4 separate regions of the Homo sapiens genome follow, and regions 1, 3 and 4 are each linked to region 2. The links come from fine-mapping of genetic effects on gene expression. A gene starts in region 2. Each other region holds a variant in brackets. All regions are shown on one strand. Distances are from middle to middle.

Region 1 (8,147 bases), 54 kb before region 2:
GCAGGATGAAGCTCCTTCTATCCTCAGTGGTAACTTGCATGATGATGCACTCTATTGGCTGCCTTCCCTTCTCTATCTCTCTTCCTCACTTCTCTACTGGTTTTTCCTGAAATCAGGTCTCAAGTAAACCACTTGGACTTGAATCCTTTTCTCAGGGTCTGTTTCTGGAGAAACTCAATATAATATAGATTCATAAGCCAAAATTTGAGAGACATTTCTAATACCCTTGACAACTTGAAAAATAAATTTCTCCAGTATAGTGGGTCCTTTCCTCCTCAGTCTTCTAATTCAAAGGCTTAGAGTTTGTATTTTTGTTTATCTTTTAGTATGTGGAACACAAAATCAAACTTCATTTTTTCCCTTTATTTTACCCCCTGGTCTGAATGAACAGGGTTTGAGTCTCCCAAGGTTCCTCCCCACTCTATAATTCAGTGAATATTCTGGTCTCTCTCTACAAGAAATGAAAAAGTTGCCCTATACCTAGTACCACTAAACATAATAAAATTTTCTATGGATTTCTGAATTCTGTATGGAGGTGTTTGTTTTTGTTAAATATGACCCTCAAATTACAAACAACCTACACAATATATTTCTGAACCTTTGTTCTTGAAAACAAATACAGTATGTTCCATTGAATCTGTAAATGCAACTTCAACATTTCTTTCCAGATTTGGGTAAGAAGTCGGAAATGATATAAAGGTATAGGGGGTGTGGGTTTTTTTTTGAGATGAAAATATGTTTTATACTTAATTTTTTTAAGTTTTAAATCTTTATTTTAGAATATTTAACACTAAGGAAGTTGATTTTTAAAAAAATTATATATGCTCAAGCACTACTTCTTACTCCTGATGTGAAAGGGAAAGATTAGAGGATGTTGACAGGGTCTTGGTTAGACATCCCATTTGGGGAGTTGCCTTGGAAGAAAAAATAATAATATGATGCTAAAACTTAAAATATTAATTGCTACTTGCTGCTTCTTCCCTCCAATGATTCATGGTCTTTTGGTTAAAAGTAACTGCAATCACTAATAAAAAGAGCCCATTTCTTGCCATGTTTCAGACCTAATAAATGGAGGATTAATAAAACCAAACTAGGGCTGCTAAGAAATATTCTAGATCATCTCCTAACATAAGTACTTGATGTAAACATCAACCACTCTAGGTACAAACCTAACTACTAGGCCTTTTGACTGATCTGTCTGTTCTGCCTATCTACCTGGTTCTTCCATTCTTACCCTCCTTTCTACCTATCCCACTACACTGTACCAATTCCTTGTCCTGATGCAAAGTTCACACATTCATATATTCACTCTTTGAACAATAATTAGTTGATAACCTATTATGGAATATGGTGATCTACAATTCAAGTAAAAACATGGTCTGCAGAATGGCAGCACCAACGTCACCTGAAAGTTTGTTAGAGGTACAAATTTCTAGTCCCCACCTCACACCAACTGAATCAGAATCTCTGAAGGTGGGACCCAGGAATTTTTGTAACTAGCTGCCCATGGAATTCCTATGTAACTAAGGTCTGAGAAACATGTCTGGATCTAGATTGGGGCCCAAGAATTTGCATTTCTAATAAGCTTTCAGGAAATGTCGATGCTGCTAGTCCAGGGACCCCACTTTGAGAACCACCAATCTAGAAATTTAAGTTCTTTTCCCTGTTACTCAACAACAGCCTATATCTAAATCTCCCCAAATTATTTTTTATCCTCATTCTCTACTTTTCCAAACTAAACACAAGTTTGTCGGAAAGTTTGAGGCCCAACTTGTGAACTCAAAGCCTTTCAAATTTGGTAGCAATACACAACAACTGCCACTGTACCCTGTTAGTATTATCTCCCTCATTATCTTCATTTTTGCTTCACATGCTTTATCAGAAAACCTCACAGCATGTTGAATTGCGTACAACTTTGAGTTAGATTGTACAGGCCTAAGCTATAAATTTACATTAACTAGGTAATTTTGAACAAGTCACTTAAGATTTCTGAAGTTCATTTCCTTATCTGCACAATGAAAATGACATGGGTTGGAAGAGATTATGTACAGTCATCCATGTGGAGGATTGTTAGTTCCAGAGTAATCCCCATATAACCAAATCCATGCATACTTAAATCCTACAGTTGACTCCCTACAACCCGTGTATATGAAAAGTCAGTCCTCCATATACTTGGGTTGCATCTGAGAATACTGTATTTTCAGTCTGCATTTGGTTAGACAAAAAGAACACATACAAGCATGTCCACACAGCTCAAACCCATATTGTTCAAAAGTCAGCTCTATTTGAAATAAGCTATCAACAAGGTCTGACTTACAGTAGTTGCTCAATAAATATGATTTAAATTTTTATATCACAACCTTTTTCTCTTTCTTTAATATCATCTGATACCAGGTAATGATATGAGGATGATTTTTGTTACTTTTAAAATTTGATTTAACTTTACCCTCTATATTTTATTCCTCCTTCATTTTGGTGACCTCTAAGAAGTATAAAATACATTTCTTTTGATTTAAAAAATATCTGAAGTTTTAAAAACTACAACAGACTGTAATAGAATGTCACAGTGGTTGTTCTAATGTTCAGTTTTCTATATTTTCTTGTCATTTGATGCCAAATAAAAGTCATAGCTAAATATACCTTAAAATTTCTCATTAGAAAAAATAGCTTCAACATTGACTAAGCCATTTATCCAAGTACCTGAAATCCCTTTATAGGCATTAGCTAATTAAGTTTTAAGACACCTTCATCAGTAAAGTAAGAATTAGAACACCTAGACTAAAACCACATAGGCTAGTTTAAGAAATAGGGGCTTATACTATATCAATCAAAGTAAACTGAACAGATTACAGCACAGCCAGTCTGTATATTCTCATCATTTTGATAACTGAAAAGAGGTTTGAAAACTTTTGAACTCTGAGAATCATTTGAAAAGAATTTTTAAAATCATGTTTATATAAAAGCGATGCAATATGTATGCTTATAAAAATCAAATAGTACTGAAAAAGTTATAATGAATATATCAACCATTTTTCTCCATATCTCTCCAACACCAGATTCCATTCCCTAAAGATAATCTCTTTTTAATACAAGCTGCTGCATTTATAAATAATATGTTTATATTGCTATTCTTTTTTTAGTGACAGTGTCTTGCTCTGTTATTCAGGCTGGAATGCAGTGACACCACCACAGCTCCCTACAGCCTCAACCTCCCAGGCTCAAGCGATTCTCACACCTCAGC[C/T]TCCCAAGCAACTGAGAACACAGCCAAGCCACCAAGCCTGGCTAATTTTTTTATTTTTTGCAGAGATCAAGTCCCACTGTGTTGTCTAGGCTGATCTCCAAAGCCTAGGCTCAAACCTTCCTCCCAACACATCCTCTCAAGTGCTGGGGTTACAGGCGTGAGCCATCACGTGCAGCCTATATTGCTATTCTTGATTTACCAATGTTAGACACTATTTATGTCTTTCTCTAATATGTGAGGATTTAGCTGTTACAACACAGCCACAACCTCTCTCCAATTCCTTCCAATATATTTATATAATTTTTAGTTAAGTAACCTAACAGTGTTTATATTTCGAAGATACATAAATATCACTGCAGTCAAGTAGTTGGACCCTCACCCAAGCAGTTTTACTATAGTTATTTCTTACACAGTTTTTCGGTTTGTTTCTGGAATTCCTAATTATTTCACTTTACTCTTATATATTATTTCTTAAAGTCATTCTTACTTTTTTTTTTCTGAAGTCTCATCATATCATGTATTTATAAAATGAGTCCTGTCTCTCCCCACCCCTAATCACAGAAAGTTTCTATCTCAACTTGCTGCTTCATTTGGGGCTGCTGCTCTCCAAACCTGCTGCATAGGTATCCTGTGACTATCCTTGACTACTCTTCTGGCTTGCAGCAACAATTTCCTAGATTTCATGTCTTCCTATCTCCTGATTTTCTACCTGTATTGCTGGAGGCAAATATTCTGATTCTTTGCTGACTGAAGATGTTTTTCTTTTCTCCACCCTCACACTTGATACTTTGTATAAGTATAGAATTCCAGGTAGAAAATCATTTTCCCGTCTGAATTTTAAAAACAATAGATTACCATTTAACAAATGGTGCTGGGAAAACTGGCTTGCCATATGTAGAAAGCTGAAACTGGATCCCTTCCTTACACCTTATACAAAAATTAATTCAAGATGGATTAAAGACTTAAATGTTAGACCTACAACCCTAAAAACCCTAGAAGAAAACCTAGGCAATACCATTCAGAACATAGGCATGGGCAAGGACTTCATGTCTAAAACACCAAAGGCAATGGCAACAAAAGCCAAAATTGACAAATGGGATCTAATTAAACTATAGAGCTTCTGCACAGCAGAAGAAACCACCATCAGAGTGAACAGGCAACCTACAGAACGAGAGAAAATTTTTGCAATCTACTCATCTGGCAAAGGGCTAATATCCAGAATCTACAATGAACTCAAACAAATTTACAAGAAAAAAACAACCCCATCAAAAAGTGGGTGAAGGATATGAACAGACGCTTCTCAAAAGAAGACATTTATGCAGCCAACAGACACATAAAAAAATGCTCATCATCACTGGCCATCAGAGAAATGCAAATCAGAACCATAATGAGGTACCATCTCACACCAGTTAGAATGGTGATCATTAAAAAGTCAGGAAACAACAGGTGCTGGAGAGGATATGGAGAAATAGGAACACTTTTACACTGTTGGTGGGACTGTAAACTAGTTCAACCATTGTGGAAGTCAGTGTGGCGATTCCTCAGGGATTTAGAACTAGAAATACCATTTGACCCAGCCATCCCATTACTGGGTATATACCCGAAGGAATATAAATCATGCTGCTATAAAGACACATGCACACGTATGTTTATTGCAGCGCTAATCACAATAGCAGACTTGGAACCAACCCAAATGTCCAACAGTGATAGACTGGATAAAGAAAATGTGGCACATATACACCATGGAATACTACGCAGCCATAAAAAATGATGAGTTCACGTTCTTTGTAGGAACGTGGATGAAGCTGGAAACCATCATTCTCAACACAAAGAACGTGGATGAAGCTGGAAACCATCATTCTCAACAAACTATCGCAAGGACAAAATACCAAACACCGCATGTTCTCACTCATAGGTGGGAATTGAACAAGGAGAACACTTGGACACAGGAAAGGGAACATCACACACCGGGGCCTGTTGTGGGGTGGGGGGACGGGGGAGGGATAGCATTAGGAGATACACCTAATGTAAATGACGAGTTAATGGGTACAGCACACCAACATGGCACATGTATACACATGTAACAAACCTGCACGTTGTACACATGTACCCTAGAACTTAAAGTATAATAAAACATATAGGGGAGGAGCCAAGATGGCCGAATAGGAACAGCTCCGGTCTACAGCTCCCAGCGTGAGCGACGCAGAAGACGGGTGATTTCTGCATTTCCATCTGAGGTACCGGGTTCATCTCACTAGGGAGTGCCAGACAGTGGGCGCAGGCCAGTGGGTGCGCGCACCGTGCGCGAGCCGAAGCAGGGCGAGGCATTGCCTCACCTGGGAAGCGCAAGGGGTCAGGGAGTTCCCTTTCCGAGTCAAAGAAAGGGGTGACGGACGCACCTGGAAAATCGAGTCACTCCCACCCGAATATTGCGCTTTTCAGACTGGCTTAAAAAACGGCGCACCACGGGACTATATCCCACACCTGGCTCGGAGGGTCCTACGCCCACGGAGTCTCGCTGATTGCTAGCACAGCAGTCTGAGATCAAACTGCAAGGCGGCAGCGAGGCTGGGGGACGGGCGCCCGCCATTGCCCAGGCTTGCTTAGGTAAACGAAGCAGCCAGGAAGCTCCAACTGGGTGGAGCCCACCACAGCTCAAGGAGGCCTGCCTGCCTCTGTAGGCTCCACCTCTGGGGGCAGGGCACAGACAAACAAAAAGACAGCAGGAACCTCTGCAGACTTAAATGTCCCTGTCTGACAGCTTTGAAGAGAGCAGTGGTTCTCCCAGTACGCAGCTGGAGATCTGAGAATGGGCAGACCGCCTCCTCAAGTGGGTCCCTGACCCCTGACCCCCGAGCAGCCTAACTCAGAGGCACCCCCCAGCAGGGGCACACTGACACCTCACATGGCAGGGTATTCCAACAGACATGCAGCTGAGGGTCCTGTCTGTTAGAAGGAAAACTAACAAACAGAAAGGACATCCACACCAAAAACCCATCTGTACATCACCATCATCAAAGACCAAAAGTAGATAAAACCACAAAGATGGGGAAAAAACAGAACAGAAAAACTGGAAACTCTAAAATGCAGAGCACCTCTCCTCCTCCAAAGGAATGCAGTTCCTCACCAGCAACGGAACAAAGCTGGATGGAGAATGACTTTGACGAGCTGAGAGAAGAAGGCTTCAGACGATCAAATTACTCTGAGCTACGGGAGGACATTCAAACCAAAGGCAAAGAAGTTGAAAACTTTGAAAAAAATTTAGAAGAATGTATAACTAGAATAACCAATACAGAGAAGTGCTTAAAGGAGCTCATGGAGCTGAAAACCAAGGCTCGAGAACTACGTGAAGAATGCAGAAGCCTCAGGAGCCGATGCGATCAACTGGAAGAAAGGGTATCAGCAATGGAAGATGAAATGAATGAAATGAAGCGAGAAGGGAAGTTTAGAGAAAAAAGAATAAAAAGAAATGAGCAAAGCCTCCAAGAAATATGGGACTATGTGAAAAGACCAAAGCTACGTCTGATTGGTGTACCTGAAAGTGATGCGGAGAATGGAACCAAGTTGGAAAACACTCTGCAGGATATTATCCAGGAGAACTTCCCCAATCTAGCAAGGCAGGCCAACATTCAGATTCAGGAAATACAGAGAACGCCACAAAGATATTCCTCGAGAAGAGCAACTCCAAGACACATAATTGTCAGATTCACCAAAGTTGAAATGAAGGAAAAAATGTTAAGGGCAGCCAGAAAGAAAGGTCGGGTTACCCTCAAAGGGAAGCCCATCAGACTAACAGCGGATCTCTCGGCAGAAACCCTACAAGCCAGAAGAGAGTGGGGGCCAATATTCAACATTCTTAAAGAAAAGAATTTTCAACCCAGAATTTCATATCCAGCCAAACTAAGCTTCATAAGTGAAGGAGAAATAAAATACTTTACAGACAAGCAAATGCTGAGAGATTTTGTCACCACCAGGCCTGCCCTAAAAGAGCTCCTGAAGGAAGCGCTAAACATGGAAACGAACAACCGGTACCAGCCGCTGCAAAATCATGCCAAAATGTAAAGACCATCGAGACTAGGAAGAAACTGCATCAACTAACGAGCAAAATCACCAGCTAACATCAGAATGACAGGATCAAATTCACACATAACAATATTAACTTTAAATGTAAATGGACTAAATGCTCCAATTAAAAGACACAGACTGGCAAGTTGGATAAAGAGTCAAGACCCATCAGTGTGCTGTATTCAGGAAACCCATCTCACGTGCAGAGACACACATAGGCTCAAAATAAAAGGATGGAGGAAGATCTACCAAGCAAATGGAAAACTAAAAAAGGCAGGGGTTGCAATCCTAGTCTCTGATAAAACAGACTTTAAACCAACAAAGATCAAAAGAGACAAAGAAGGCCATTACATAATGGTAAAGGGATCAATTCAACAAGAGGAGCTAACTATCCTAAATATATATGCACCCAATACAGGAGCACCCAGATTCATAAAGCAAGTCCTGAGTGACCTACAAAGAGACTTAGACTCCCAAACATTAATAATGGGAGACTTTAACACCCCACTGTCAACATTAGACAGATCAATGAGACAGAAAGTCAACAAGGATACACAGGAATTGAACTCAGCTCTGCACCAAGCGGACATAATAGACATCTACAGAACTCTCCACCCCAAATCAACAGAATATACATTTTTTTCAGCACCATACCACACCTATTCCAAAATTGACCACATACTTGGAAGTAAAGCTCTCCTCAGCAAATGTAAAAGAACAGAAATTATAACAAACTATCTCTCAGACCACAGTGCAATCAAACTAGAACTCAGGATTAAGAATCTCACTCAAAACCGCTCAACTACATGGAAACTGAACAACCTGCTCCTGAATGACTACT
Region 2 (8,124 bases):
ATGGCAGACATTATTCTAGGTACTTGGGGTTTTTGTTTTGTTTTGTTCTGGTTTTGGTTTTTTTTGGGGGACAGGGTCTTTCTCCAGCTGCCTAGGCTAGAGTACAGGGATGCAATCTTGGCTCACTGCAGCCTCGACCTCCTGGGCTCAGCTGATTCTCGTACCTCAGCCTTCAAAGTAGCTGGGACTACAAGAGCACATCACTACACCCGGCTAATTTTTTTTTTTTTGTATTTATAGGAGAAAGGAGGTTTTGCTATTGATATGGTTTGGCTGTGTACCCACCCAAATCTCATCTTTAATTGTAGCTCCCACAATTCCCACGTGTTGTGGAAGGGACCTAGTGGAAGGTGATCGAATCATGGGGGCAGGTCTTTCCTGTGCTGTTCTCCTGATAGTGAATAAGTCTCATGAGATCTGATGGTTTTATAAAGGGGAGTTTTCCTGGACATGTTCTCTTGCCTGCCACCACTTTGCTCCTCCTTGCCTTCTTCCATGATTAAGGCCTCCCAAGCCATGTGGAACTGTGAGTCAATTAAACCTCTTTCCTTTATAAATTACACAATCTCAAGTATGTCGTTATTAGCAGCATGAGAACAGACTAACACAGCCATGTTGCCAGGCTCGTCTTGAACTCCTGGACCCAAGCAATCTGCCAGCCTTGGCCTCCCAAAGTGGTGGGATTTCAGGCAGGAGGCACTGTGCCTGGCCTACTTGAGTTTTAACAGTGAAAATATAGATACTTGCTTGCCCTTGTGGACTGTTCATTCTAGTGAAAGGGAACAGACAGTAAATTAGAGACATGTCAGATGGTAAGGGCAATGGAGAAAATAAAGCAAGTTAAGGGCATAGGGATTAGGGTGGGGGAAGCTCTTTCATATGATGTGGTCCTGGAGAGCCTCAATGATAAAGTTAAATTTTATCAAAGATTCAAAGGAAATAGGAGGGAGAAAGTCATATGAGCATACAGGGAAGATCTGTTCAGTAAGAAAGACTTGCATTTAATAAGAGTAAGGTTGGTGAACGTTTTGCAAGTGGATGGACTTTTCTGCGATTTTGCAGTTTGTTTTTTATTATTTGCATAATTCTCTTTACAAAAACTGTGATCCTAACTGGATAACATAAGCTTATTATCAAATATAGTACAAAGTTCAAATATTCTACAAAATATCATTCATCTCTTTTACTAAAGGAAAAGCTATGCGTCCTCACACAGCAGGTTATAGAATTTGCTGATGTTAAGAAGAATTAGCTGAAGTATATAATGTCTTACCTCTCCTGTAAAATACCTCCTTTGTTTCAGAGTCAGCTATGAAATTCTAATAATAGTCTCAAACTTTTCACTTGGATTATTTGAGTAAATGTAAAATGCCCAGCACTGTACATAATTACTTCTTTGTTAAGATGTCAACCTTTGTTTTTTAGTTAAGAGTTAATGAACCTTGATAATTGGCAAACAATCTTTGAGCCGAAAGTAGGATGGACACCATCAGTACTCTTAACCCAAAACAATGAAACTATTGTTGGCATTAGGATTACATTGCTTTCTGTTCAGATAATTTTTTTCTGAAAAAATGCATGTATACTTTGTTATTCAATGGTGTCAGAAATATTAATAAGTTAGCTATAATTAAGTATTCCTTAAACAGTTTGTTATTCAAACAATAAATGTGAACTTATGTATAAAGTTAGAAGACTAAAAATGGCATAGAACGCACTAATACTCTCATGCTAAAGGTTTTAAAAAAATTAATAGTATTTCTGCCCTTGAAAAACATGAGTTGTATATGTAATGTAAAATCTTTTTCTGTGGCCAGTAAAAATTTCCAACAGGAAAGCTTGGGGTGAGTATGTCTAAAATTCACTCATCTGAGGAGAATGTAATTTAAGATTGGGCACTTTTATTATAGAAAGTAGAAATTTGAGTTATCTTACTTTTTAACTTAAAGAATCATCTTGAGAGATCAATGGTGTCCACTGGAAGGCAAGAACTTGGTTCTGGCAGGAAAACCACCACTGGCTGGTAGTATTTGCAGAGCACTTAACCTCTGTGCCTAGGTTCTTGTAGCTGTCAAGTAGATAATAGTAATTGCTACCTTCCGTGGGAAGTGAGCTTGTGCTTTGACATCTTTAGTTGAAGATGCTGTATAAACACAAATTATTATTATTAGAATATAATACATATATGCACATAAAACACCAGCATGGTGCTCTTTTAATGCTTATATAACATCTATAAATAATGCTCTTCCATGCTCTCTCTTCACTTTAGGTCAGAGAATATCATAGCAGACCACTATTCAATTTCTGTAAGTATGGAGGAAATATATTTGTTAAAGCTCCATGTCATCTTTTTGAGACGAACTTAACCTGCTAATTCCTTATGGTCTCTGTAGCAATTGCCCGATGGCCCCTACCCAAGTTAAGCCTTTGGTATTTTTTGAAATGTTGGCTAAATTACTTTTCTTGGAGATGTGGAGCCATCAGGGAAAACCTGGAAGAATGAAATTGGCTAGTGATATTAAAATTTTGGTTGTTTAACATTTAACTGAGTCTCAACAACGTGTTAAAGTGCTATCTAAACAGATAATTAGCTAGTGGCTGCGCAGTGAGCTGTCTAAATTTAGCAGTGAAATTAGGTTTAGGGAATGCGAATATAGAAAAAGAAATTTTCTCAAGGGAAACGGTGGTGTCAGCACAGCTGAGGAATGTCACAATAGCTACATTTTGTCAATTATGATCATCATCAGGGGATCTCCCGGAGCGATGCAGGACAAGGTTTATTCATAAGTGCATCTTGAGAATAGGTGATAGAAAGCCTTGGCTGCAGGAGACAAGCTTACAGGGGACGACAGAGGCAGACAGGCACAGGGAGGGAGGGAAGAGGAAAGGGCTGGAGGGAAAAAGGCACTAGACCGAGCGCTGGGAGACTGGAAGGGAGGCAGAAGTTAAGAAAGAAAAAAGAGGTGGGCAGGGTGTAGAATGGCTTGTAGCCTTGGAGGTTAGTAAAGCCTTGTAATCCAGCGGGCGGAAGGTGGGAAGACCCTATTGACTGAAAGCCGAGGACAGCGTGGTCTTGGCCGCAAGCATGCATTAGTTTAGCTGCGACAGGCTAACTTCTGGGCGGCTGATCCTTGTTCAGCTTTCCTGTTACTGGAACACATTTATGGCTATCTCGTGGAGATGACAGGACCTACATAAAATTAATAGTGTCAGGCCTGAGGACTGGTGTCCTCTGCCTTCAATTCACCCCCTACGCTGGACAGTCCAAATTGTCCACCCTCCTACTCCCCCCGCGGAACCAATGTGGCAGTGGCTCCAAGGTCAAGCTGCCGGTACTGTGCGAGGCGGGAGGATGGAGAGGGCAGGGCGGAGAGCCACCTGGGATGAGCGAGGGTCATGGTGGACCACAGACGCTCTTCTTATACGGGCAAATGTTTAATACTTCCCGAGGTCGCCTCTCTGCCATCAAACGAAAACAGGCAAGAAAATAAAACTACACATACGAACATGCAAAGGAAACAAAACCAAAGAAAAACACCAACGCACTCGTTGGGGGAAATCCATGGCCTCCTGTTGCCAGTCGCCCGGCGCGGAAAGTGGACAGCCCAGCGGCCAGTGAGAAGCAAGAGCAAGAAAGCAAACCTTCTGAAGACCCCTCTCCTCGCCCAGCTCCGCCGACCATTCTACCAAGCTGCCCTCCCAGAAAAAAGAGCAGGAAAAATGCCTGTGCAAACGTGCCTTGGCGAGCGGGGAATAAGTGGGCTGGGAAGAAGGGAAGGATTCGGAGAGCACAGCTGTCCCGGGGAACAGGAAGGAGGAGAAAGTCTCTCCCTCCCTTCAGTGCCCCGCGCCCCAGCGAGGAGGAAGATTACTAGTCCAGCAGGCTGCGTCCAGCTTCCTACACAGGAACCTTTAGCATGGGCAACGGAAGGGCAGCCCCCTCCTGCCTTCCCCTCCCCACCCCACCCCCTCGTCCCAGGTCCCCGCCACAGGGAGAGCGCCGCCCGGGAGAGGAGAAGGCCGAGCGTGATTGTCCCGCAGCCCTCGCCTCAGTCGGCGCCGGGGCCCCCGTGGACCCGCGAGGGGTGGAGTGGGCGAGACCATTGGAAAGGCAGGGAAGGGGGGAAACCAGGCAGGAACGAGGGGCGGGGCCGACTAACCTATTCCAGATTTTCCTGTCCCTTTTAAATCTCTGCTGTGGGAGAAACCCCGTTATCAAAGTGGATGAAAAGAATATTTTTTTTTGAAAGGGGAGGAGCATGTGTAGGAGGGCGGGGTGGGAGGAGACAGGGCTTGCGCCCGGGGATCAGACGGGAGGTGGAGTTGCGCGGGGAGGGCGGGCGAGTCGGGCGCCCGCTCTGAGAGTCGGTTTCTTTTCCCCCTCTTGCGTGGGGCGGGGTGGTGCGTTCCGAGTTCCCAGGAGTTCGACGCGGGCGGGTGCCGAGGGGAGGGGAGTGGCGGCGGCGGCGGGCGGCTCCCGCTTCAGCCTCGGCAGTGGCGTCGGCGACGGCGGTGTCGAGGCAGCCGCCAGCGTTCGGCCAAGTGTCAGCCGGCAGCGACGGCGCTAGAGCTGGGAGCTGGGGACGCGCGCGCCGGACCTTCCACAGCCTCCGCCCAGAGCCTGAGGCGCCGGGGCCGGGGGAGCCGGGGGGCGGGCGGGCGAGCGGGCCGGGGGGAGGGTGGGGGATGGCGCGGACCCTGCGGCCGTCCCCGCTGTGTCCTGGAGGCGGCAAAGCACAACTTTCCTCCGCTTCTCTCCTCGGAGCCGGGCTCCTGCTGCAGCCCCCGACGCCACCTCCGCTGCTGCTGCTGCTCTTCCCGCTGCTGCTCTTCTCCAGGCTCTGTGGTAGGTGAACCTCGGCGGCCGGCGTGGGCTGAGGGAGCCGCCACTGAGGGTGCGGGCGCCGCGGCCGGCTCTGCCAGCCGTTCTCTGGAGCAGCGAGGCGGTTGGTTGTGCGAGCGAGTGCCGAGGACTTTGGCTGGAAACTTTTCGCCGCGCCCGGGGCGAGGCCCTGGAAGGGCCAGGCCAGCGAATGCTGAGCCGGCGGCCCGCTGCCCTCCCCCGCGGCCGCGCGGGTCGCCGTGCGGATGGCCGAGGGTTGGCGATGGTGCTTCGTGCGCCGAACTCCGGGTTTGCTCCGGGGACCGTTACTTCCTCGCTCATTCTCTGGGAACCCTCGTAGGTTAAGGTGCCGGGATGCACGTTTGCCGCTTTTTTTCCCGGTGAAACTTGAGCTGTGAGCCCAGAAACCCTAGGGACCGGAGCCCGATGGAATGAAGCCTCCGGGTCCACTTCTCATGGCCTTCCACCCTGGAGAAGGCACCATTTTAGCCCACCCAGCCGCAGAATCCCCTACAGCTAGTTTTCTTCTGTCTTGTGCCCACTCCCCCGGCTCTGCCCTGACAGCTTCTGGAGCTCTCTAGATTGACCCTCGTCCCTGCCCTCCAGCTTGTGGGACGTCTCTCACACTGCCCGTGCTTATTTTACCAAACCGCAGGAACAAGATTTACGTGTTAAATACCTGATTTCATGGACTGTGTGCCCCGGCTGTTCTAACCAAAACAGTCACGCGCCTGTTTCCCATCTCTTGACCCTCGTGTTATGTTACTGTTTTCCTGTCATATTTGGGAGTTAGTCTCTGAGTTTTCTTCCCAGGTATGCCAGACTAGAAGCCTGCTTATTAAGGACTGTGCTAAAAAAAAAAAAAAAAAAAAAGTCTGCCTCATGCAAGAGAAATGGACTTAAGTGGTAATTAATGGGAGGCAGCGATTTGGGAAAATAAGGACACCAGTCTTTGGTGGGAGGAGGAGTATCAGAACACTGCGAGTAGTTATTTATTTGAGGGCTCTTGGTAAGAAAAGTAGAGGGGCAGAACTTAAGCTTGGTCAAAGATTGGTTTTCAGTATTTCATAAAACCGTAAACTGAAGTTTTACTAGTATTTATTAAAAGGAGAGATGTGTGCACATTTCTTGAATAGTGTGATTTAGAAGGAGGAGAATCCTGTTACATGGTAGGTGAGTCAGGGTAGTTGGTTATGAGGGAAGCAAAGTTTGCATGATGGGATTGAGTGTCTCTTCTGGGCTGAGAATTTCCACTGACAGTTTACCACCACGTTTCCAGCACTGTAATGAAATCTGATTTACACAGAGTATAGTATGGTAAATGGAATGTTATTAATTGTACGCTGTTTCTGTATGCCGACTCCGCAGATACTTGGTTCCAAGACAAAGTTCTTAATGCTATACCTTTTTAAATTGATGCCAGAGTCTAGATTGAATTTGTGTGCTGTTCTATTCCATGAAGGAGAATTGGGGATGTTGCTTACAGTTGAGTGAGAGGACAGTTGGAGGGGACCTTACCAGTTTACTATCCTGACTTCGTTTATGTTAAGGACTGAGAGAATATTTATACCTCCACAGAGGCAGATCTAGTTAGGCAAAGCTCTGTGGAAGACTGAAGCCAGGTAATATGCATAGCTGATGCAGGAATTATTTACATGATAATTTCTTAGTGGTTGTGAAAATGAATTGTTGATTACTTTTTGAAGGAACACATTGGTTTTCACATGGAAGAAGAAAACAGTTTTAAAAAATCTCAATGTAGCATTGGAAGGACTTGATTTTTAATTCAGAGCTTAAAAACTTAAGCAGTGTAGGCAAATGGACTGTGTTTTAGAGCAGGTGTAGTGTTTAGAGTCAACTCTTCTTGTTGTAGAGGTAGACACTGGTTTTGTATTCCTGTGTGCTACTCATTTAAACAGCTTCCTTTTTTGGCTTATAGTGTTATAACACCCTAATTTGTGAACCTTTATGACGAGTTTTTTCCATCAACCTTTATTTTGGAATTAAGTCTTTGAATAGGGCACAGATGTTGTGACTTATGGAAGCTTAGTGGTATGGAAGCAAAATTTTCTTCAAGTAAGCTGTTAGTCTAACAAGTTGTTGATTTAACTACTGTTTTAGTTAATAGAGTTATAATGATGTTCATAGTACTGCTTACAAGGTTTGGCATGTAATTAATATTTGCGTGGAGCCAGTTTTAGAGTTGAAAAGATTTTTAAGCTTTAAAAATATGACTGTAGCTGATGATTTGTTGATGAGAATGCTTTACTTGTTTTATGACATATAGATTTTTCCTTTTGCTGCTATTTTTGATATTTTGATATGTTTGATATATAGCGTGGCCTTAACTTTATCGTGTTAATTTAACTGTTAAAAATATCCATCAAAACTGGTGGACCTGATATTCTGAAGGCTATAAAAATGTTTATATCAGACTTGCTGGCCGTTTGTTTTGGGGGTGTGCATTATCTTATTTGGAGAACTGAACTTTTAAAATGAGAGTTTTACAGGTTGTCAAATTGCCAGATTTTTTTTTTGTTTTTAAGCCTAAGAGATTCCTAGGTATAAGTGTCAAGGGGACTGGGCTTACGTCATCATCTGACTTGATAAACGTCATTTAATTATGAAATTCGAAGTTTCTTTATGATGGCAATAATCAATTCATAGATGATTAGATTTATCTCACTTTTACTTCCCACCGTTTTTTTTTCAGGGGACATAGAGAATATTATCATGGGTATGGTAATGATGAATAACAAGATAGACTGACCTTTGTAAGGTCCCATTTGGCTCTGAGATTCTATGCCTCTTTCCATTTTCAGCAAGGCTTCATCTTAAGATGAATGTTTAAAAGAGCACAGAAAAGAAGATCTGATATGATATGGAACTTTTAAAAGCACTTTGACTACTTGATAGGCACTTGGGGACATAACACACGCATAAGACAGAGTCCTGGCTTCAAGATGCTTGTAACTTTGGGTTCGACCTAAAGGAAACATGATTGTAGAACAGTTTGGTGTTTGTGAGGTATTTTGATTTGCCCGGAAATGGGACACCTAACCCATTAGGTAAAGACTTATGAATGTGCAATGAAAAAAACAGTCATTTTTAAAACATCATTTGGGTCAGATCTTATTGAGATGTCTTCTTCCTTCCCTGTCCTTCCCTCCCTTCCTCTCTTTCTCTTTCTCTCTCTAGCTGTAAATCATTGGCAGGTTATTTAACCTTGGAAACTTGAAGTTTCTCTTGTTTTATAAAGAGATAACATTACTACCTTG
Region 3 (8,147 bases), 460 kb after region 2:
GCCCACCTGCACCATACACATTCAAGGAAAAAAGTTTGACGGCCTAGTAGATACTGGGGCTGATGTTTCTATTATTTCCTCTAATTTATGGCCTTCCTCCTGGCTTAAACATCCCGCTAACATGGGACTAGTAGGTGTTGGAAAAGCTGATGAATTTCACCAGAGCACATTTATCTTGCCTTGCACTGGTGCTGATGGTCAAAAGGGTACAATTCAGCCTTATATCACACCAACCCCCATTAATATTTGGGGTAGAGATTTGCTGGCGCAGTGGGGGGCTGAAATTAATATTCCATGTAACTCTTATAGTGTTCCCAGTCAACATATAATGGAAAACATGGGGTTTGTTCCCAGACTTGGTCTCGGTCCAAGACATGAAGGAATTACTAAACCTCTTCAAGTTACTGTAAAAGAAGACAGGGCTGGTTTAGGTTATCCCTTTTAATGACGGCCACTGCCATGCCTCCTAATCCTGTAACTTTGTAATGGAAATCTGAAACACCTGTTTGGATTCAGCAGTGGCTGCTCTCTAAAGAAAAACTGGAGGCTTTAACTCAATTGGTTTCTGAACAGTTATAAGTTGGAAATGTGGAACCGTCTCTTTTGTCCTGGAATTCTCCTGTGTTTCCAGTAAAAAAAAAAAAAAAAAAAAAAAAAAATTCAGGTGAGCGGAGGATGGTAACTGATTTAAGGGCCATTAATGCTGTAATTAAACCTATGGGACCTGTCCAACCCGGCGTGCCTGCCCCTGCTTTAATACCTAAAAATTGGCCTCTCATAGTGATTGACCTTAAAGACTGTTTCTTTCATATTGTTTTACATAAATCGGATTGTGAAAAATTTGCTTTTACTGTACCATTATCAATAATCAGGAGCCTGCAGCTCATTATGAATAGAAAGTACTTCCTCAGAGACAGGCTGTGGTGGAATGGGCCAATCGCACTTTCAAAACTCCATTGTCCAAACAGTCTGAGCAACAAAAGCATAATGTAACCACTCCCCACTCCCAATTACATTTAGCATTGTTTACTTTAAACTTTCTAAATGTTCCTAAAGACAATACTCTGACTGCAGCTGAACGCCATTATACAGGGAAAAAATTCTCCCTAAATGGAAGCAAGCCAGTATTATGGAAAAACTCCCAGACCAATACCTGGGAACCTGGAACAATTTTAATGTGGGGACGAGGGTATGCTTGTGTTTCACCTGGAGATCATCAATCCCCTGTCTGGGTGCCCACTAGAAGACTTAAACTTCCTGTAAATACTGACAATGAAAACCACAAGGAAAAGACATCTGCGTCAGAGACCGCCATCATACCTGGTGAGATCTGTGCCGACTCTGCAGAAACTGGCATGCCAAATCAAAATGGGTCTGGTTTAATCCTCCCTAATGGCAATGGAGACCCCTCTAACTAATCCCACTTCTCCTAATTCCCTTTCTTTTTCTCCTTATGAACCTAAAAATCTCGCCATTTCTATTAGTCTGAAAATAACAACCCTCTGTTCTTCTCTTCTTCCTTCAGCACTGGACCTTGCTTAAATTGGTTTTATTTAATAATTCTCCTCCTTATACTTTCTGTCTCACCAGTTTCCCCTCAAACTGATTTACCTGCTACACAAAATTATTCTTATTGGGCTTATGTGCCTTTTCCTCCACTTATTCGAACTTTCACCTGGATGGATGCTCCTGAGGAAATCTATACTAACGATCGTGTGTGGATGCCTGGAGCTAGAGATGACCGTTGCCCTGCTCAACCAGGAGAAGAGGGCATTGCATTTAATGTTACTATGGGTTATAAATACCGTCCTCTGTGCCTCGGACATGCACCTGGTTGTATCCATCTAGAAACTCAAGTCTGGTCTGCTTATCTTCCAGAGAGATTAGCTACAAGGGAAGGAGGACATTTGGTCTCCGGCCTCTCCCTTTCTCCTTTAAGACAAATAAAAAGGGGAGTAATAGGAGATACCCCATACTTTCAATATAAACCTGTAGGAAAACCATGTCCTAAAAATTTTGAGGGCCCATCTAAAACTTTAATTTGGGAAGACTGTGTTAACTCACATGCAGCAGTATTAAAAAAAACCCATATGGTTTAGTAATAGGCTGGGCACCAAAGGGCTATTTAAAAAACAATTACTCCTCTGGCAGAAGGGAATGCCTGGAGGGTACTTATTTTATTTCTTATTGGGAGGGCGAGGATCATCATCCTACTTTGCGTAGGAGGTTCAGCTCATTCTTTCCCTTAAAATGGGAATATAAGGGCATTACCCCCCACCTGAGGCCTCATATGATATTCCCCATTCTGAGCCCAGAACACCCAGAACATAGGAAATTGGCTATTGTCATGTCCAGACTCTGAGTATGGGAGGGGGAAACTTTTCTGTCTGTTGTCCCCACTACCGCCCCTTGCATCCGTGATTCTGAACCCCATGGTAAATCCCCTTTGAACCCTTTTCCTCTTTTTGATGCTGATCCTACTTTATGGGACTCCAATTGGCATAATAATAATTCTTCTCAACCCGGGTATACCCCTCCACCTCTTCAGCATCCCTGGGCACCTCAGATTGCTTCTTTACAGCGGAGAACATCGGGCATTGCCACCACCACTCCTCTCCCTCAGTATCGACATAGATTCAAACATTCTGCTTTGTTTACCTCCAACCTGACTATTCCTATACAGAGTTGTGTTAAGCCTCCTTACATGCTGTTAATGGGAAATATCAAAATTTGGACAAACAGTCAAACTGTCCAATGCAATAATTGTCATTTATACACTTGTGTTCATTCCCATTTTGACTTCAGGAAAAGTGTAATGTTGGTTCAAACTCAAGAAGGAATCTAGATACCAGTAACTTTACCCAGACCTTGGGAATCTTCCCCCTCAGTACATTTAATTAATGAAGTGTTACAACGAATTCTCAAAAGATCTAAGAGATTTGTTTTCACTGTAATTGCTGTGATCATGGGCCTAATTACAGTCACTGCACTGGCCACCACTGCCAGAGTGGCATTACACCAATCTATTCAAATGGCTCATTTTGCTAATGATTGGCAAGCCAGTTCCACCCAAATGTGGAATTCTCAACAAGGCATCGATCAAATATTAGCTAATCAAATTAATGATTTAAGACAGTCTGTTATTTGGCTTGGGGATCGGCTTATGAGTCTCGAACATCACATGCAAATGCAGTGCGATTAGAATACTTCTGATTTCTGTATCACACCATATTCCTACAATGAGACTGATCATTCATGGGAAATGGTCAAAGGACACCTTCTGGGTAGGGAAGATAATTTATCCTTGGACATAACTAAACTAAAGAAACAAATTTTTGAAGTCTCTCAAGCTCATTTATCCATTGTGCCTGGAGCTGAGGCGTTAGATCAGGTGGCAGAAAGTCTTTCTGGACTAAATCCCACAATTTGGATTAAGTCTATTGGGGGCTCCACTGTAGTAAATTTTGGGATTAGGTTTCCCTGTTTAATCAGCTTGTTTTTAGTGTGCCAGACCAGTCAAAGAATCCTGTGTCAAAACCAAGAGAACGAACAAGCCTTCATCACCATGGCACATTTATATAAAAAGAAAGGGAGAGAAGTTGCGAGAAGTCAGGGACCCCGAATGGAGGGAACAGCTGGAGCTGCGGCAGAGGAACATAAATTGTGAAGATTTCATGGACATTTATCAGTTCCCAAATAATACTTTTATAATTTCTTACACCTGTTTTACTTTAATCTCTTAATCCTGTTATCTTCGTAAGCTGAGGATGTACATCACCTCAGGACTACTATGATAATTGTGTTAACTGTACAAATTCATGGTAAAACATGTGTATTTGAACAATATGAAATCAGTGCACCTTGAAAAAGAACAGAATAACAGCAATTTTTAGGGAGCAAGGGAAGGCAACCATAAGGTCTGACTACCTGTGGGGTCAGGCAAAAAGAGCCATATTTTTCTTCTTGCAGAGAGCCTATAAACGGACATGCAAGTAGGGAAGATATCGCTAAATTCTTTTCCTAGCAAGGAATATTGATATTAATACCCTGGGAAAGGAATTCATTCCTGGAGGGAGGTCTATAAACGGCCACTCTGGGAATGTCTGTCCTATGTGGTTGAGATAAGGACTGAGATACGCTCTGGTCTCCTGCAGTACCCTCAGGCTTACTAGGATTGGGAAACTCCATCCTGGTAAATTTTTGATCAGACTGGTTCTCTGCTCTCGAACCCTGTTTTCTGTTAAGATGTTTATCAAGACAATATGTGCATCACTGAACATAGACCCTTATCAGAAGTTCTGC[C/T]TTTTGCCCTTTGTCCTGTTTCCTCAGAAGCAAGTGATCTTTGTTCTGCTTTTTGCCCTTTGAAGCATGTGATCTTTGTGACCTCCTCCCTGTTCATACATCCCCTCCCCTTTTGAAATCCTTAATAAAAACCTGCTGGTTTTGAGGCTCAGGTGGGCATCATGGTCCTACCGATATGTGATGTCACCCCCAGCAGCCCAGCTGTAAAATTCCTCTCTTTGTACTCTTTCTCTTTATTTCTCAGCCAGCTGACACTTACGGAAAATAGAAAGAACCTACATTTAAATATTGGGGGCAGGTTCCCCCGATATAGCTTCTGTGTAAGGCCACAGCTAGAAAGTGGCAGAGCCAAGAACCAAAGTATATCTGATATGCCTTGGATCCATGTTCTGTACAAGATTTTCTCTGTGCTGAACAGCCCAAATTAGCACAGGTTATACATGTATATACACATGTGTATATATATGTATATATATATATCTCTCTCTGTAAAGTCTTAGGTGTGATTTTCAAAAATGATTTTGGATTCTGACATGGCAAAACAAGCCCCAGTGGAGAGGATTTTGATGCCTTTCTATCAATTACTTCTACTGGGGGTATAGACAGGAAGTGTCTGGAGGCCAGGCTGGATGCTGCTTAGTCTCTGCAGCTTAGAGGTCAGTACCGAGAAACCACACCTGTTGAAAGGTTGGCTGTTGGTGCAAATCACTGAGGAGGAAGACTCCACACTGCTTGTCTCTACTGTCAAAAGAGAGGATTCAACACTGTGGGAAACTTGTGCCATCCCAGGATTGCTATGGATTCATTACTTTTTTACTTTTAGCACATGTTCCTTTTTCTCTAGCCACACTTAGATATTTTTTCTTAATTTCTGTTCTCAATATCCAGGACTTTTGGCTTTCATTTTCTGTTTAAAAATATATTCTCAAATCTTCTATGATATGATAAGATCTTGATTTAATTTCTCAATACCCACTAACCATCCACTTAGACTTCTGTCCAATTCTTGAAAAATATTACTTCTATTTTGAAAAGGTTTTCATTCTTCTAGTTTTTGTGTTTAACTTCTTACCTCATGTTTCTTATCACAGGGGCAATAGTAAGACAGAGAGCCCACACAATGGAGCATAAAACTTCTTTTGTTTAGGCATTGGGAGGATGGTTCTCCAAAAAGCCTCCTTCTGAGCTACTTAGACTATTGATGGTTCATCTCATGTGGGAGTATGTCTTAAATCAAGGCCCCTGGAAAACAGACACTGTGGTGAAATTTGCCTACAAAAGCTTTATCAAGAAGTGCTCTTGAGAACAACACCTACAAGGGAGTGAGGGAAGCAAGAGGGGATGGAAGGAGAAGCTGCCTTCCAACGAAGTTGCAACAGAAGCCTCAGCCCTTCCCACAAGACAGCTCTAGAGCTGGGATGTCCCTTTAGAGTTATCAAGAATTGAGGCACAAAGCCAGACCTTTGTGCATCCTCCTTCATTATCCACTCATTACCAGTGGGCTGTTCCCAGGGAGAAAGCAAAAACTTAGAGAGGCAGCTTTCTTTAGATTAAGGAAATTCTTGGAAAGTGATGCAGCTATGAGCCATCAGCAGGCAACACTCCCAGCAGCAGAAAAAATTAGTGCTTCAGTCGTGAACGGGGAAATGGGACAGTGCACCACAGTATCCACTACACGCCTCCAGTTTTCTCAGTGTTGATAGCATGCTTAATTTGCTGAAAATATTTTACTTCATTATATCTTTAGTGGGATTAATGGTGACCCCTCAAGATATATGTGAAAAGCACCTGTAAATATGATCTAATTTGGAAAAAGGATTTTTGCAGATGTAATTAAATTAAGGATCTCAAGAAGAGATCCTCCTGAATTAATGGGGTGGGCCTTAAATCCAATGACTAATGTCCTTATAAGAAACAGAAGAGGAGATGACACAGGGAAAGGAGGAGAAGGCCATGAGAAGACTGAAATAACTGGAATGAAGCTCACAGCCCCAGAAGCTGGAAGAGTCAAGGAACAGTTTGTCCCCTAGAGCCTTTGGAGGAAGCATAGCCCTGCTAACACCTTGATTTTGGACCTCTAGTCTTCATATTTGTAAGAAACTGAATTTCTTTGATTTTAAGCCACCAAGTTTGTGGTAGTTTGTGACAGCAGTCCTAGAAAACTAATACAACATCTTATACCATTTAATCGTTACATAAAATTTGTATTCTTAAAACCCTCAATAGGAGGGAGAGTGGCATCGAGATACTTATATCCCTAGGTTTCTAACTGAGGGGTTGCCAAGGCTTGGCTACACATCCATGATGAAGGCCACAGTTCCTGTTGGGAGGCTCTCTCCCTGCAGCTACCCTCTCTCATGGCTGTCTCCCATTTCCCTGCAGTCATAGGAAAGAAAGTGGCTTCCCAATGTTGCTAGCCCCTAAGAACTATGCTACCCCTGGTCTCCCCTAAGCCCTACTACATCTTTATATATAGCCCCTATATTAAACTCTATTCAATTATCACTTTTGAATGTGCCTTCTGTTTTCTACTGAGACTAGACTGGCTTGTCAACTCTGGGGTAATTTAGCTCCCAGGGAGCAATGACTTCAGTCAATGCTAAGCCACTAGTGACAGCAAAAGTTGTATTGCAGCTTTTCTGAGATTTTGTAATATTATGTGCCTATATGTAAGAGACCTGGATTTTATAATACTCATTTTCCCATAGTTATAGCATTAGATCCCTTAACCCTCTGGCTTTCAAAAAAAAGAATCTTGTCATTGGTAGAGATAGGTTTGTCATCCTTATTTTTATCTATCTTAAGTACTGCTATTGAATTCCATCCCTTAGGTAACAAGAATTTCTCTATTTTCTACAGTTGATTTGAGCACTTGGAAAGCCAGTCACAAAATGTCTTAAGATTTATATTCTCTCTGGCAGGGCAAATATGGTCTGCTTTTTTATGTGCTGCTAATTTCCTTCATCTCACATACTCCACAGGAGACCTACGGGTGATAATTGGTGGCAGATCTAATGGGCTCCTTGAACTGCTCATAGCTACTCTGGGCATCCCTCTTCTTGATAACGCTGAGATAATATCATGGGAGAAGAGATATTATTTATCTTTGTCTCCTGTACAGATCAATCCTAGTGCCAGACATTTAAGTGGAGCTCAGTATTTGTTGAGACACTCAGCAAAATTAAGAATATATCTTATTTTTAGAACTCTGACTAGTTTATTTCAATTTTGTGGACCTTGTGAAATGTGTATGCTGTATTATTTCTATTGATGGGAAATGGATTTACTTACTCAAGAGTTTCATCAAAAAATATTCATATAGTGTCTATTATGTGCTCAATACCATTCTCGGGGCTAGAAATATAGCAGTGGAGTAATCAGACAGCCTTAGCATGCATTCTCCACAAAAGCACAGCCTGAGACAAGGGCCTGCCTACAGTTACTTTGGGATGTAATCGCATGGAACAGGAGTGGGGGTGAAAAAGAGTGAAACAGGGAAGGAGGGCAAGTCAATGCAAGGGTGCAATATCAAGCAGCTTACACTATGGTCCACTGTTGTCTGGGTCCCTCTGGGCACTTTCTTAGGATCTGTGTAGAACGCATCTTAGAATCTTTCACCTGAGCAACACAAGCTCCTGTTCCCCATTGATCAAAGGTTGCCCGATGAGGTGTTGACTCCCTGCACTTCCAAGGTCACGCATGTGTATGCATGGATGAGTGGAATGAGGCCTCCACCCCCACCTATCCCCCTTCCCTTGCTGAGGAGGCAGAGATGCCCAGGTCAGAAAGTAAGAGATATTTAGGGCAGCTGAGGAGAGGTGCTTTCAGGCTTACATTTGAGCAGC
Region 4 (8,000 bases), 110 kb after region 2:
TCCTCTTCCACCACCTCCAGCCAAACTCCTCTCAGTGTTCAAATGTTGCTCCTCTTCTCTATTTCTCTGTCACATTGTTCCGCCATCCATCTGCTTGTCCCCTCCTCTCCTTGCCTGCTGGTCAGCTTTTGGAGCCTGGGGTTTTGGTTTATATGGGTACAGGATAGTGGGCACGGTGGGCCAAAAGGCAACTTCTTGGGCATGAAAACAGGAATGTTGTCCCCATTTAGGGCCGCTGGTCTCCAGGCTTGAGGGTGGGACCTTTGCCAGGCAACCACCCTCTTCTACCCAGTGTCTTCTGTTTGTATCAGTACCATGGGAGATAAAGACAAGTAAAAGCATAGAAAGGCCTCCCACTTGTGTTCAAATTGCCTCGCTTTGTTGTTTAACTGTTTGAATGACAAGCCACATGAAACAAGATTATAAATTCCTGGAGGACAGGGCCCATACATTCTTTCACAAGTAGATATTACTTAGGATGAGATTATTTCAGAACATCAAATTATTAATTTTCAGTCCATTCACCTCTGTAGAGCTCAGTTCTCATAGACACAGAACCACAATTCTCATCAGATTTCAAACTAGATATTGCAAACATGATGACATTTCTCACTGTGTTTTAACTAACTTCCTGGGACCGAGGGAAGAGCTGCTTCTGCTTCAGTAACAGCCTCTGATGGCTCCCAAGGAGGTCTCCATAAGTATTACCAATTCCAGCCAGGGTCACCCAGAGGGTGGGGCCATCCAATTTGTTCAGGGAGTAGGTAAAATAATGTTTTTAACTGTTAAATGTTTTTTTGCATTGGTATTTTAAAAAATTTATTTCCTCTACTATTTTTCCAAAAGTCTACATTTAGTTATTTGTTACAGTGAAAATGTTCCTATCTTAACAGAGTGATTCCTTTCACTATCAGGTCAAGAAATGTCATCCTGCAATGACATTTACCAATTCCACACTAAGTAGATGGCCTGTTATTTGTAGTTATTAGCCTGTTTTAGGGGCCAGAAGAAAATACCCAAACTCTATTTGGCCATATGAATTACGTGTACATGAAGAGAAAATAGTTTTCACTGTTCTTGCCTCATGGAGTAGCATCTAAGTCAGTATCACTATGTAAAAATTAAATAGTGACACTGTAGGGTGCATTGAAAACAAGAAAAATCCTTGACTCATTTTATTAATCATGCAACCTACCTTCACTGGAAGGATTCTCCAGCTTTTGTATTATCTGCTTCACTTTCCTTTTAAAGTCACTGGTGCTGTGAACTTTCATTCTAATCACTGATGCTCTCTGGCTCTCCTAAACTCATAAACTGAGTTCTAGCTCAAGCTGCCTCTGTGCAGGTCACTTAAAACTTTAGTGTCTTTGTGGGGGGAAATGCCAAATTGAGACTACAGTTACTTCTCAATTCAAATAAAACTGCATTCTTTGGGTTTTATATTTAAAAAATTGGTGTTCCTGAAAGTTAATATTAACTTTCCATAGCAGACAGTTTCTCTTTGTATTTTACCTTCTTAACCATTATTAGGTTATTTTCCTTCAGAAGGAGAAACTATATATGTTACCTTTATTTTCTTTTTTTTTTCTTCTGGGAAAATGTTGAAAAATATCATTCAATTAAATTTAAGATCCCCCCAAAAATACATGTAAAAATATGTTCAAGAGATAACTTAGAAGGCTTCTAGAAAGTAACCATTAGGTAAATGGATAGAGACCCTTTTGTATTTCATTTTCTACATTTCTATTACACCCTCAGTAGGAAAAATAGATTGTTGGTAAGGGAAATTATTTCTGTATTGTCTCATCTTTCAATAGGAAGGAATATAAGGGAACTGGCATTCTTCACTTAGTATATAGCCTGTTGTTTTAGGAACTAAAATACATTCCGTATTGAAGATTTTAGGCGGCCTTTTCTGTTTTAATTTTTACTCTTATTTTTGCAAAGAATGGCATAAATTATTAACCACTTAGAAAATCTTAACAGAGTGTCTTTTTCTAGTTCTTTGAGTTAAGGGTCAACAGTTAGCTTTGAAATTACTTATGGTTATTTCAAAAAGACATAAAAATTAAGTTTTTAAAAAGAAGAACTGAGTTAATGTATGAAATAAGGTGGCATTTCTAAGGAGGCCCACATTTATCTATACCCTTACCTTTTTATTCATTTATTATTTAAAAATATTTATCTAATTTTTCTCTAATCGATATTTATTATACATGTAGATAAGGAAGACAGCAAGAAGGAACTTAGATGCTAGATTAAATATGAGATTTGGGAAGGCCCATATTAATGATCTCTAGAGAGGAATTCAATTTTGGTTCTTATTTTAGCATGTAAAATTTTGATCATTACAACATCTAGGCAGTACTGGAATGATTTTTGGCATAGCTTCTCTGAGAACACATCTTTTAAGATGTGTATTTTTTAAGATACTGTGTAGTATGATGATAGGTGATTTTCTCTACTTGATGGCTTTGTGACAATACTGTGCTTGATACAGAAAAGACAGCTACCATCTTTGAGGGTGTTCGGGTGTGTTGATGAAACTAAGGTTTACCTTATGGGAAAATTTGGAGATAAAATGGTATGAGTGGGTAAATAGGTACAGCATTAGGGCATCGCATTGAAAAGCAGAGATGCCCCTTGTGAAAATGACAGCATGGTTTTCTGGTGTTAAAATGTGTAGGCATTTATTAGTTATGGAAAACAGTGCATATGTGCATTTGTACCCCAGAAATGGTTAGGATTTATGATTAAGAGCATCTTGGAATTATATTTGGATATCATTTGCCTGCAAATAATTCATCACCTTTACCATCTATCTGCTTTAATTAGGTACTTTGCTTTGCATATGTATTAAAATTTAGGTAAAGTATCACTTTCTTGTGTATTTTAATATGAGAATTAAGCAAGACCATAAACCAAAATAAGAAATTTCATTAAAATGTGTCGTATCACATTTCGCTTTGAAAAATTAAAACCTAGAATGTATACTCAGTAGAAGTAATGAAATTTATTTACCAGTGATAACAAGAAACACTGCCTTCCTTTTGGTTAAGACAGCATTTTCAACAACTAAGCTGTTACAACTCTGTGGTTGACTTCAGAAAAATTCAGTGCTACCTTGTGGGATAAAATATCCAATATTCTATCTTGCAAATAAACCTCATGATAGCAGCCTGTATTTGAAAAGTTAGCCATGAGGACTTTCTTTCTGTAGTCATTTCTTCTTTAACTGACTCATTACAATCTATAATATTACAAATTAGGGGACTAGACATTGCATTTTGAGGTACTGCACTATATCACTCTGAGTATAAACAGACACTCAAAAAGAGAGGGGAAATACCCTCCTCATAAATTTTTAAGGCATTATCCTACAACAAATGACCACTGTATGTTCAGCCCTGGGCTGGGGCAGAATGGGAAACTCTCAGAGTCTCATTACTGCTTAAGAAAAGCCTTGCCTTTGTTTTCCTCTAATTGAGGCTGGAGCTCAAGCAGGAGGTGAAGTAACTTAGACTCGTACGGATGACGATAAACCAGAGCATGTGGCAAAGCTCGCCAGTCTTGAGCATCACTGGTCTTTCTCCTCACTTATATGCCATCTGCCCTCTCAAATGTTCATTGTCTTCCCACTTTTTAGCCCCTTTCTGCAAGCAGTTTAAGAGACTGGATATACTCAAGATGGGAAGTTTTATGTGATGGTTTAAGGCACAGACTTTGGAGTTACATAAAGATGAATTTGAATCTTAGCTCTACATACTTGGAACCATTGCTCAATCATTCTAGGCCTCAGTTTCTTCATCTGTGATATGGGGACAGTGATATTGCCTCAAGGGCATAGTGTAAGACTATGAGTATAACCAAAGCATCTTAAACAGTGCTTGTCTTACTATAAATCTTGGCTGTAATAAAACTTGGCTATATAGCTACCTGCTATATGGATAAGGCAGGTAGTAAGGGAAGAATCTTTTGTCAGTCCTTATAAGTTGTAATTGTAGTTTTACCTAAGCTAAGCCTAATGCTGTCTGTTTTAATCATGTTGCCATTATTGAGCCAACTTTCATGTTCTCTTGCCTTCTTTCTTAAATGCTAGAACCTCTCCTCCAGTCTATCTAAGTCCCAAGGATCTAGAACGTCTTTTCACAGCATTCACTCCCTTCCCATGAACCATCTCAGACCTATCCCTGCCCTGTTCTTTGCAAGTAGTAATTCAGACCTCAAGATTTCCAGTCCAGCTGGCACAGGTTTCTCAACAAAGCTAGCACCCAAGATATCTGTGGGGACCTCTGACTAAAAGTGGGAGTCAGTTTCTATGCAATGATAGCTTTTCAGTAAGTGTTTACTGAGCACCTACTCTGATAGCAGCATGTGTGGTTTGGGAGAAATCTGTCATTCTCTTAGTGGGTTAACAGGAAAGGATTTATGGGATGTAATACACAGACAGAAGACATTGGGACAGAGGAACTATAAGCAAATAAATCTCAAGTCTTGGGGAATAAGATCTAGGCAAACTGGCTGGGCGCGGTGGCTCACACCTGTAATCCCAGCACTTTGGGAGGCCGAGATGGGCAGATCACGAGGTCAGGAGATCGAGACCATCCTGGCTAACACGGTGAAACCCCGTCTCTACTAAAAATACAAAAAATTAGCTGAGTGTGGCGGCGGGACCTGTAGTCCAAGCTACTCGGAAGGCTGAGGCAGAAGAATGGTGTGAACCTGGGAGA[C/T]AGCTTGCAGTGAGCCGAGGTCACACCACTGCACTCCAGCCTGGGTGACAGAGCAAGACTCTGTCTCAAAAAAAAAAAAAAAGATCCAGGCAGACTTTACACATTTAACTTGTATAATATGTGATGGCAGTCTGCACTGATCACAACTGATTGTAGATATTAGAGAACTAATAATTAACTTAAAAATTAACAGACAAAATTTCAAATTTAAAAGAAAAAAGTTGATTAATAATACAGCAACCCCATTGACATTCACAGAGAATACTTCATAGAATTTTGAGAAACCCTGCATTACTAAATACCCCTATCTTTTATAAAACTCATATATAAGAGTTGAGAATAAAAGACACCTTGAGAAATGGATATAGCTAAATGATTAGCCTCATATTGAAAACCTTCCAGGTCTTGATTCCAATTTATGTCTCAACAAAATTATAAATTACTACCTGTCATAAACCTTTTAAGCTTACTCATGAATGCTTGGAACCAGCAATGTTAAATCTGTGAATACTAAGGGTCTGCTAAAATAATGAGAGACATTCATATGACTAGCGTACGCATATGTGTAATTATCTTGGAGAACAGTAACAATTATGTATCTCATTAAACAACTGCCTAATTAACGTTGTTGTAAATTTTGCCTGATTAGTGTACAATCTTTATAGTTGCTGATCCTGAAACAAAGTCGACCTCTCTCATAACTATTTAAAAAAGTGAAAGAGAAATCAATCTTTGGTTCACAGTTTTAATAATATTATATTAATTCTTTTAGAGAGGTACTTAATAGATATGAGTGTAATATCCTATATGCCTTGAAGAATCCATATTTTGTGAATTATATGTGGTGGCCAGTTCTTTATGTGTTGCTCCTTTAGTGTGGAGAAATCATCTCTCTAGATTAGGAACTCAGTCATCCAAATAAGCAATTGGATACTTTTTAACGGAGAAACTTCTGCATCAGGGACAGTCTGTTGTAAAGTATTTATTAAGAATTTAATATGTACTTTTTTCGTAGCAGATTCCAGACTATGTCAATGACTTCTCAGTTTACTTAATCTCCCTACCCATGTTTCTCCAAAACGGAGTAATTATAATAAAATGACAAGTTAGAGTTTTTTTTAAAAAAACTTTATTGAGTTGGAGTTTACATAATACCATGCCATATTTTAAGTGTACATTTTCATAGCCTTGCCAAATATGTACATGGATGTAACCATTGCCCCAAGCAAGAACTTTTCCATCACCTGAAAAATTTCTCATGTATACCCTCCACCATCAGTATCACCACTACCACCACCATCATCCCACACTTCCTTTCTCTGGCAACCATTGTTGTGATTTCTGTCACAATATATTAGTTATGCCATTTTAAAAGAACCTCACATGAATGGAATCCCAGTGTGCTCTTTTGCGTCCAATTTCTTTTGCTCAGTATAATGTTTTTAAGATTCACCCATGTTATTGCATGAATAAACTTTGTTTTATTGCTGAGAAGTGTCCTATTTTATGAGTATACTATAATTTTTTATATTCATTCATCTGTTGAGGACCATTTTGGTTTAAAGTTTTGGGATGTTGTGAAGAAAAAAACCTTTTTCCTTTTTTTGTAATGTATTTTTCTGGTTTTAGTATCCAGATGATGTTAATCTCATAAAAGGAGTTTCAAAGTATTCTCTTTTTCTCCATTTGCTGAAATAATTTTTAAGAGCAGTGTTATTCCTTCTTTAAAATGTTTGGTAGAATTTACTAGTGAAATCATCTGGGCCTGGAGTTTCTTTGTGGAAGGATTTTAATTGTGCCTTTCAGTATATTTATTAGTTTCATCTAGGTTGTCAAAGTTAATTGGCATCAGATTTTTCATAATACACTTTTTTAACCTTTTAATTTATATGGGATCAGCAGTAATGTCACCTTTTTCATTTTGATATTGATTTGTGTTTTCTCTTTTTCTTGCTAGGGGTTTTCCCATTTTATTAATATTTTCAAAGAAACAGATTTTGATTTTATTAATTCTCTCCATTGTTTGTGTGTTTGTTTTGCTTGTTTATTGATTTTTCACTCTTTTTTTCTACTTCCTTTGGATTTAATTTGTTCTTTTTTCAGTTTCTTAAGCTTAGATCATTAATTTCAGTCCTTTCTTCTTTTCTAATACAAGCATTTAAAAATACAAAGTTTCCTTTGAGCACTTCTTTGTTTGAAATTATGCAAACTTTGGCTTTTTAAGATATCATTATTCAGTTAAATATTTTCTAGTTTATCTTTTATTTCTTTGCTTAATTAGTTATTTAGAAGTATATTTTACAAACATTTTGAAATTTTCAAATGTTTTAATTATTTATTTTTCGTTAATTTTTTTATGGTTAGAAAATATATCTGTTTCACTTCAATCTTTTAAGTATATTGAGACTTCTTTTAAAACCCAGAGTATAGTCTGTCTTAGTGAATGTTTTTATGTGTACTGAAACTAACGTATGTTACGCTGTTGTTGGATGTGGTGGTTTATAAATGTCACTTAGGTCAAGTTGGTTGATAGTGTTGTTCAAGTCTTATAAATATGTACTGATTTTCCTTTTTCATTTCTATAGTAACTAAGATGGGAATGTTATTTTCTACTACATTTGTGAATATATCCATTTCTCCTTTCAATTCTGTCGGTTATTCATATATTTTTGTAGTTCTCTTATTGGATATGTACACATGTAGGATTGTTATGTCTTCTTGATAAACTGATCCTTTTATCATTTATGAAAGATCCTTTTTGATTTCTGATAATTTTATTTGTCCTGAAGTTACTTTGTCTGATATTACTATAGCTACTCTGGTTTTCAAACTTTTTTTTTTATGATTTGTGTATAGTGTGTGTTTTTCCATCCCTTTGCTTTTAACCAATCTATGTCTTAACATATTTACAATAATTTTCATATTGGTCACATGTAGTTGGGTATTGCCTTGTTACCAATCTGAAAATCCTTACCTTAAATTGCTATGTTTATGTTTATTGCCACTTTTACTTAACTTATTTATTGCTGTGGTTCAGCTTAAGTCCATCATCTTGTTATTTGTCTTCTGTTTGTCCCATTGGATCTTTGTCCTTTTTTTCACTTTTCCTGCCTTCTTTTAAATTAGCTGAGTGATTAAGTATTTTTTAATTTAAATACATTTATTTAGTATTTAGCATACACATTTTTAACTTATCACTATCTACCTTAATATTACATAATACTACTTCATATATATTAGATGAATTTTAATATGCATTTCAATTTTTCC

Direction of the effects. Alleles are on the strand shown, and positions count from the first base shown. SD is a standard deviation of normalised expression in the study named. Not every link is listed here.
For the expression in B cells of the gene that starts at base 4,488 in region 2, allele T in region 3 goes with a higher level than allele C (large effect, 1.4 SD a copy in Schmiedel 2018).

What was found. PIP is the estimated chance that this variant, and not a neighbour inherited with it, causes the effect. A credible set is the group of variants that fine-mapping cannot tell apart.
Region 1: its variant is the best candidate, but not a certain one, in a credible set for the expression of NECTIN3 in whole blood (INTERVAL, PIP 0.51).
Region 3: its variant is the best candidate, but not a certain one, in a credible set for the expression of NECTIN3 in B cells (Schmiedel 2018, PIP 0.75).
Region 4: its variant is the best candidate, but not a certain one, in a credible set for the expression of NECTIN3 in fibroblasts (GTEx, PIP 0.63).

Annotation. Positions count from the first base shown.
Region 1 is chr3:111,013,336-111,021,482 of GRCh38, forward strand. All of the region lies in intron 2 of LOC151760 (putative uncharacterized protein LOC151760), which reads right to left. Among named protein-coding and RNA genes, the nearest start is that of NECTIN3-AS1, 53 kb to the right of the region's middle. The variant C/T (reference allele first, on the strand shown) is at 3,242.
Region 2 is chr3:111,067,329-111,075,452 of GRCh38, forward strand. NECTIN3 (nectin cell adhesion molecule 3) reads left to right here and starts at 4,488. Exons shown (of 6, transcript NM_015480.3): 1 at 4,488-4,849. The coding sequence starts at 4,690. It overlaps NECTIN3-AS1 (NECTIN3 antisense RNA 1), which reads right to left and starts at 2,631. Exons shown (of 4, transcript NR_045114.1): 1 at 2,462-2,631; 2 at 1,936-2,143. LOC151760 (putative uncharacterized protein LOC151760) reads right to left here and starts at 4,438. Exons shown (of 4, transcript XR_007096272.1): 1 at 4,164-4,438; 2 at 1,936-2,143. RefSeq lists a silencer at 4,216-4,315.
Region 3 is chr3:111,525,853-111,533,999 of GRCh38, forward strand. All of the region lies in intron 2 of LOC105374039 (a long non-coding RNA gene), which reads left to right. Among named protein-coding and RNA genes, the nearest start is that of CD96, 12 kb to the right of the region's middle. The variant C/T (reference allele first, on the strand shown) is at 4,303.
Region 4 is chr3:111,175,094-111,183,093 of GRCh38, forward strand. It overlaps a transcript of NECTIN3 not described here. Among named protein-coding and RNA genes, the nearest start is that of NECTIN3, 110 kb to the left of the region's middle. The variant C/T (reference allele first, on the strand shown) is at 4,731.